Linked DNA regions of Homo sapiens. The protein of the gene in region 2 interacts with the protein of the main gene of each other region in a pairwise test. Each region holds a gene or a part of one and is shown on either strand. Other genes may lie near its edges. The genes, in order: PDE6D and RAP1A.

Region 1 (4,032 bases), on a different chromosome or scaffold from region 2:
TACCTAAAGAAACAAATATCAGATGTACCCCAAGGAAACAACTCATGAAGATCACTCTATAGTGAATGCCACAGTCCATAAACTTCACCCACAAGCACAGAACTCTCAAATTGCTTTGTAGTGGCCCCCTCTGTTTTTTTTTTTTGAAACAGAGTCTCACTCTGTCACACAGGCTGGAATGCAGTGGCACAATCTCGGCTCACTACAACCTTCATCTCCTTGGTTCAAGCAATTCTTGTGCCTCAGCCTCCTGAGTAGCTGGAATTATAGGAGCACGTCACCAAGCCCAGCTTATTTTTGTATTTTTAATAGAGATGGGGTTTCACCATGTTGGCCAGGCTGGTCTCGAACTCCTGACCTCAAGTGATCTGTCTGCCTCAGCCTCTGAGTGCCCTGTTTTTAAATATGAGAAGATAGCCAAGTATCAACAGAAATTTAAGAAAGCATTTATTATGAAAGACAGACCAAAACAAACTAAAAGAAAAAAGTAACTTAGAAGAATAAAGAGGCTTACAGATAAAGACATAAGTTTTAAAAAGGAGCATTAAAAAAGAGAGATAAGACATAACCTTTACAGACACTAAAAATTAATATAATAAAATTCTGTATATTTTAGGTGAATTTCTCTGGTTTGAGGTTACAACTTATGAAGCTGGTTAACTGATGTTCTCTGTCAGAAAATGCCTTCTAACATAAGTATTTATATTTTCTAGTTTCTGTATTGTTTCATACATTAAATGAGTCAATAATACCAATTTAAAAAAGAATATTCAGAGAACAAAAAAGAACTCTAGAAACACATATATTTTGATAGCAGAACCAAACAACTCAACACAAAGACAAAATTGAAGAAAGCTTTCAGAACGAAAAAGGCAAGGATAGAAAACAGGAGAGCAGGCTGAGTGTGGTGGCTCACACCTGTAATTCCAGCACTTTGGGAGGCTGAGGTGGGTGGATTCCTTGAGCTCAGGAGTTTGAGATTAGCCTGGGAAACATGGTGAAACCCCATCTCTACAAAAATACAAAATTAACAAGTCATGGTGGTGCATGCCTGTGGTCCCAGCTACTCTGGAGGCTGAGGTGAGAGGATTGCCTGAGTCCACAAAATCAATGCTGCAGTGAGCCGAGATCATGCGACTGCACTCCAGCCTGGGCGACAGAGGGAGACCCTGTCTCAAAAAAAAAAAAAAAAAAAAAAAGGAGAGTAAAGGCACAAAAACTTATAGTCCAAGAATAGTCCAAGAGTTCTAGTGTCTAACTAATAGAAGTTCTAGAAAGGTAGAACAGAGAGAACAGAGGGGAGGATGGCATCAATAAATTAATTCAAGAAAATTTCGTAGATGGAAAGTGTCTAGGCCAGGAGCGATGGCTCACCTGTAATCCCAGCACTTTGGGAGGCTGAGGCGGGCGGATCACCTGAAGTCGGGAGTTCGAGACCAGCCTGACCAACATGGAGAAACCCCATCTCTACCGAAAACACAAAATTAGCCAGACGTGGTGGTGCCTGCCTGTAATCCCAGCTACTCAGGAGGCTGAGGCAGGAGAATCACTTGAACCCGGGAGATTGCGCCATTGCACTCCAGCCTCAACAAGAGCGAAACCCTGTCTCAAAAAAAAAAAAAAAAAAAAAAAAAGGGTGTAGCAAATGCCCAAGTCACATCATTAGTGCATTTACAGAATATCAAAGATAAAGAAAAGCGAAAAGCTTCCAGAGGTTAAACAAGTCATTATACAAAGGGTCAAATCAGAATAGGAAAAAAAATCAGAATAAATCAAATTCAAAAGGAACCCTGGAGGGTAGGAGACAACTTAGCAGGGCCTTTAAAATTTTCAGGGAAACAATTCCTGAAACAAACTAAAAAATATTTGCTTTCTTAAGAAACTAAGGAAAATATGGCTTCATCAAAATGACAGAGAAAACCAAGAAAGGGGATGACATGGGATATAGCAAGCAAGAAACAGCTGAAGGGAGTCCCCTGAGTGACAGTGAAGGAAGATCCCAAGACAATAGCTCTTTAACAGGTCTGGAGAGTGACTAGTCCAGGGTCCAGGCTAGAGCAGGTCACAAAGCTCAGGAAGAGATTTTCTTTTAAAAAGATAAAATTCATAGAATACCTAGTGTGTTTATATGGAAAGGAGATTTATACAATTAGAGGGAGATTTTGGGGTCAAATTCATGAGAAGCACAGAAAATCTAAGCAAATGACAAAAATCCAAGTACTGACATCAAGAAAAATTAAAGGTAGTACTGGAAGAAAAAAGTAGTCATAGTATAACTCATGGCTTCATTGCAAGTAGTGCTGATATGGTCATAACAATGAAAGCACATGCTAACACCCAATATAATTTACCTGGGAGGATGGGGGAACAAGAGTATGTATATCTGGATAGTCAGGCACGAAATGTTGAGAAACAACAAAACTGTCATTTTCCGTAGTGGAAAGTGGATAAATAATGCTAAAATGGAAACATTACGACATAGCCACATTTTGCTTTTTAGAAATACCAAGATGAATACCAAATAAATAAGCTAAAAAGGATTGAAAATAGTTTTCTCTGGGGAGTAGAAAATAGGGGGACAGGGAGTGGTGCTCTTCATTAGAAACTAGATAGACTGTGTTTTTTGTTTTTTTTTTGAGATGGTTTCGCTCTTGTTGCCCAGGCTGGAGTGCAATGGCATGATCTTGGCTCACTGCAATCTCCACCTCCTGGGTTCAAGCAATTCTCCTGCCTCAGCCTCCTGAGTAGCTGGGATTACAGGCATGCACCACCATGCCCGGCTAATTTTTGTATTTTTAACTGGAGATGGGGTTTCTCCATGTTGTTCAGGCTGGTCTCAAACTCCCGACCTCAGGTGATCCGCTTGCCTTGGCCTCCCAAAGTGCTGCGATTACAGGTGTGAGCCACCTTGCCCGGCTGACTATGATTCTTTAAATGATGAACACATACAACTTAATAAAAATAAAGACTAACTTTAAGAAGAGAGTGCTAAGGTTTTTTTTGTTTTGTTTTAAAAAACAATTGACAAACCATTAAAGGAAAAGAAAATTAACATTATGCAAGCACAGAGGCTGTCTGCAAAAGATCGTTAATATTTGCGAAGAGACTGAGCTGCAGATAAATATATGTATAATATAGATATAGTTTACATGTGTCTTTTTTTTGGTTTTCTTTTTTTGCTATCTTGTGATCAGACTCTCTTCCCAAAGAAGAGAGTCTCTACCTTGTGGAAGGCAGTGACTGCTTTGCACTACAGCAGCTAGAAAGGCCAGATCCTTTTCTCCCAGCCCTGGCATAATCAGGGGTGAGCACAAGAAGGCCTAGCCTTGGACACGTGCTACCCAGTTCTGGGGTCCTGAAGCTACAGGACTTTCGAGGGAGTTGGAAGTTCTTCAGGGTGGGGGCAGCAGGGGCATGCCAACCTGCCCTTTCCTACTGTGTGGTCTTTGCTACAGACCCTGTCCTTCAACTTCCAGGCAGCTCCAAAAGCCTCAGATACCCTTTCCCATTGTTTGAATAGCTTGCAGTGAAGAACCCTAAACAACACAGCTGACTGGAATCATCATGTGTGTAATAACACTATATTTTACCCTCTGGAGAGATTCTGTCTAGGTTTTGCTGCTATACGAGAAAAGTCTCGGCTGGGCGTCGTGGCTCACGCCTGTAATTGCAGCACTTTTGGAGGCCGAGGCGGGCGGATCACGAGGTCAAGAGATCAAGACCATCTTGGCCAACATGGTGAAACCCCGTTTCTACTAAAAATACAAGAATTAGCTGGGCGTGGTGGTGTGCGCCTGTAGTCCCAGCTAATCAGGAGGCTGAGGCAGGAGAATCGCTTGAACAGAGGAGGCGGAGGTTGCAGTGAGCAGTGAGCCAAGATCATGTACTGCACTCCAGCCTGGCGACAGAGCAAGATTCCGTCTCAAAAAAAAAAAAAAAAAAAAAGAAAAGTCTCAAAATATAACAAAGGGTTATTCAGCAGAGTGCCTGCAATGTGATGAGGAGTCTATCTTTCTGTGCACTCAACCTGCT
Region 2 (3,500 bases):
TTTAACTCTATTTTAAACAACTGGGAAACTGATTTGGTCTAATACTCATAAGCTGTTAGAAAACAAGACCACCAAAATAGCTGTTCACCAACTAAGAGAATGTGAAATGTTCACAATTTATTTTACTTAAAAAATGAGTATCATTCTATTTTCACTCTATCATGAAAATACAACACTGATTTATAAAACACATGACAGGCTGTGGCAAACAAAATAAACTGCTAGACTATAAATTCCTTTAAGCAGAAACTACACCTTCACATCTCAGTATCCATCAAAGAGCCTAATTTGGGGTTACTTAAACATCTGTTCAATGACTGAATCTGAAATCTATTAATGAAATTATGAATTAACTGTGGTGGCACACGCCTGTAGTCCCAGCTACTCAGGAGGCTGAAGTGGGAGGATAGCTTGAGCCCAGGAGGTGGAGAACAGCGTGGGTGATATAGCAAGACTCTGTGAAAGAAAAAGGAAGAAAAGGGAAATAGAAAAAGAAAAAGAAAAAAGAAGAGGAAGAGAAGAGAGAAAAAGGAAAAGAAATTATATGCAACCTTTTCACAAGCATAGGATGGAATTTAAAGGGTAGTTCCAAAGGTATCAATAGATTTGGCCTAGATTGTTAACTGTGTAAAACTGTAAGATTAGCATTAAATTTCAACTGCTACAATATTTAACTTAGTGCCTGCTTGCTTAATGTTTTATAATATAGCCAACTTGTCTAGAACAGAATGATCCTACTGATAAATGAATTTTAAAATATCACTGAAAATACAGTGAGTGAATTTACTCTCTGGATTACACATCTGACATATCTGAAATGTATAGTCAGCAATAAGAGATTTCCACTACTAACTTAGAGTCATATAAACTGCATTTGGGATATGTCCAAATAGTTGTATTCAGTTCTTTGTGCCTCTTTTTATAGTTTTGTCTTTTCTAAAGACAAAAACAAAACAAAAAAAAAAGAAAACAGTTAAAAAACGAAAGACAGCTAACCACAGTCCTATCATGAACAAAATTATCTTTTACCTCCAGAATAAGTGGGTACAGCACTGCACTGCAAAAAACCGTGAAGGAGTAACATGTTATAGGCGTATACACCTAGGTGTTCAAGGTAAGGCACTTCAAGTTTTAATTAACCCAATAGTATCTTTTATTAGCTTTTTTAGTTTAATATACTGCTATTCTTATGAAATATGGCCTAATTTAAATACATTCGGACACTAAAACATATGATTACACATTTAATTTTAAATTTGGTTAACTTTAACACTTTGAACCACTCTACCAGTGTAAACTAAATAGGTTAGAGGTAAGAAACACTGGGAAAATTTGAGTGATTTATAAAGAATTTTTTTTTCAGATTTATCTAACCTAAATTTATATAGCCTAAGTAAATAAGTCATTAGTGCTTTTAAAAAAGCCATTAACTTGTCTACTGATTGGAGTTTATTTCATAAAACATTTAATTTTCCATGCGTATATCAAGTATTTCTGAAAATTTTATTAAAAGAATTATTTTTAAACCACTTATAAACGCACGTTATTTCCTGTTTCAACTCTACCTTAATAACCATACACAATTTCCTTTTTTTATTGGTGCATGTGTATATGCATGTTTGTACCTTCTACCTCTAAAAGGCTTATTTTCAAGCAGAAATGACAGCATGGCATGGTTCTCTGTTGAACTGCTTTGTTGATCAGAACCTCATGATAATGAACAAAGCTAAGCTTATAGGTTCAATACTCATCTGGATCATTTAACTTTGAAACAAAGTGCCCTCTTAACCAGTCATCTCACAACTGTGTGCAGGAGACTGAGAGAATGTGAATTATGCAGTGCAAATCTATACCACTATTACAAAAGTTTCAAAATGTAAATGAGCTAATATTAACATTATCTTTGTATATGAAAAACTAAAAAGCACATAAAAACTACTGCTTGTAATCCCCATACTTCATGCACACAATAAAAGAAAAAATGGACACTTCATCTGTCTCAGTAACATACTAAAGCTTAAATATTTTTGTTTAATGCTAATCTTTTTCATAAGATATGAATCTGGCATTAAGTAATGCAGCAATTATATGACATCAGAATAAGCAAAAAATTCTTGGAAATAGGCCGTAACTCTTCTTACAAATGATTAGATGTAATCAATTAATTGTTATAACCAATTAATTTGAAAAGGGACATTATAAACGAGTAAACTTACATTCACAATTTCAAATGTATTCCAATATTAAAATATAAATGCTTTACATTAGTTATTTTCATTGACCAACTAAAATAAGAGAATTTTAGAATCACGAGATTAGAAGTGATCTGAGGTTCAATGAACATTTACGGTGTCCCTATCACATGTCAGAAACAGAGCAAGGTGCTTTCAAGTAACTCAAGTGATTCAACCCACTCCCTTGTGTAGATGTCAAAGCTCCCCACCTATGCCAAATCAAGCCATCTAGGTTCCAGAACCAGAAATTCTGGGCAAAGCCCTCACAGTGGTATAGTTTTCTATCAAAACTGGCTGGTGTCGTCATCCCCTATAAACCAAATAAAATTTCAATGTTGACCTATTTAACAAAAACAATAGTCTCAGCCGCAGGAGTCCAGCATTCTGGGAGGCTGAGGCGGGCGGATCATGAGGTCAGGAGTTCAAGACCAGCCTGACCAACATGGTGAAACTCTCTCTCTACTAAAAAAAAATACAAAAATTAGCCGGGTGTGGTGGCACGTGCCTGTAATCCCAGTTACTCAGGAGGCTAAGGCAGGAGAATCCCTTGAACCTCGGAGGCAGAGGTTGCAGTGAGCCAAGATCACATCACTGTACTCCAGCCTGGGTGACAGAGCAAGACTCTGTCTCAAAGAACAAAACATGGGGCGGTCACAGCTATAATATTCTAAAAGCATCATACAAAACAGAAATTAAACAAATTACAGATACCATTAAAAATTCCTTTGTTGCCAGCCACAGTAGCTCACACCTGTAATCCCAACACTTTTGGAGGCCAAGGTGGCTGGATCACTTGAGGTCAGGAGTTTGAGATCAGCCTGGCCAACATGGGGAAACCTCGTCTCTACTAACGATTAAAAAAAAAAAAAATTATCTGGGCGTGGTGGTGGGTACCTGTTATCCCAGCTACTGGGGAGGCTGAGACAGGAGAATCGCTTGAACCCAGGAGGCAGAGGTTGCAGTGAGCCAAGATTGCACCACTGCACACCAGGCTGGATGACAGAGCAAGACTCCGTCTCAAAAAAAATTTAATTTTTAAACATATCCCTTTGTAAGGAAAAAAAACAATTACCAACATGAAAATCTGGATGTCTAATCCCTATTTTATATAAAATATCATCAACCATACACTAAAGTTCATGGGTAAAACTAAACACTGGCAAGATCTGGAGTAACTTAACTATTACAATACAAACAATGACAGACTGTGAAACTCCCTGAGGGCAGAGACCCTGTCTAATTCATCTCTGTATCCAACAATTAGCA

The links.
Region 1: the proteins of RAP1A (region 2) and PDE6D interact in a two-hybrid assay, tested with the Homo sapiens proteins (2 studies listed by BioGRID).

Annotation. Positions count from the first base shown.
Region 1 is NC_000002.12:231,739,505-231,743,536, forward strand, and holds part of PDE6D (retinal rod rhodopsin-sensitive cGMP 3',5'-cyclic phosphodiesterase subunit delta), read right to left. Parts: intron 1,603-4,032; exon of another isoform or gene 1,453-1,602; coding exon of another isoform or gene 1,375-1,452; intron 1-1,374. UniProt on the Homo sapiens protein: Promotes the release of prenylated target proteins from cellular membranes. Modulates the activity of prenylated or palmitoylated Ras family members by regulating their subcellular location.
Region 2 is NC_000001.11:111,622,789-111,626,288, reverse strand, and holds part of RAP1A (ras-related protein Rap-1A precursor), read right to left. Parts: intron 1-3,500. UniProt on the Homo sapiens protein: Counteracts the mitogenic function of Ras, at least partly because it can interact with Ras GAPs and RAF in a competitive manner. Together with ITGB1BP1, regulates KRIT1 localization to microtubules and membranes.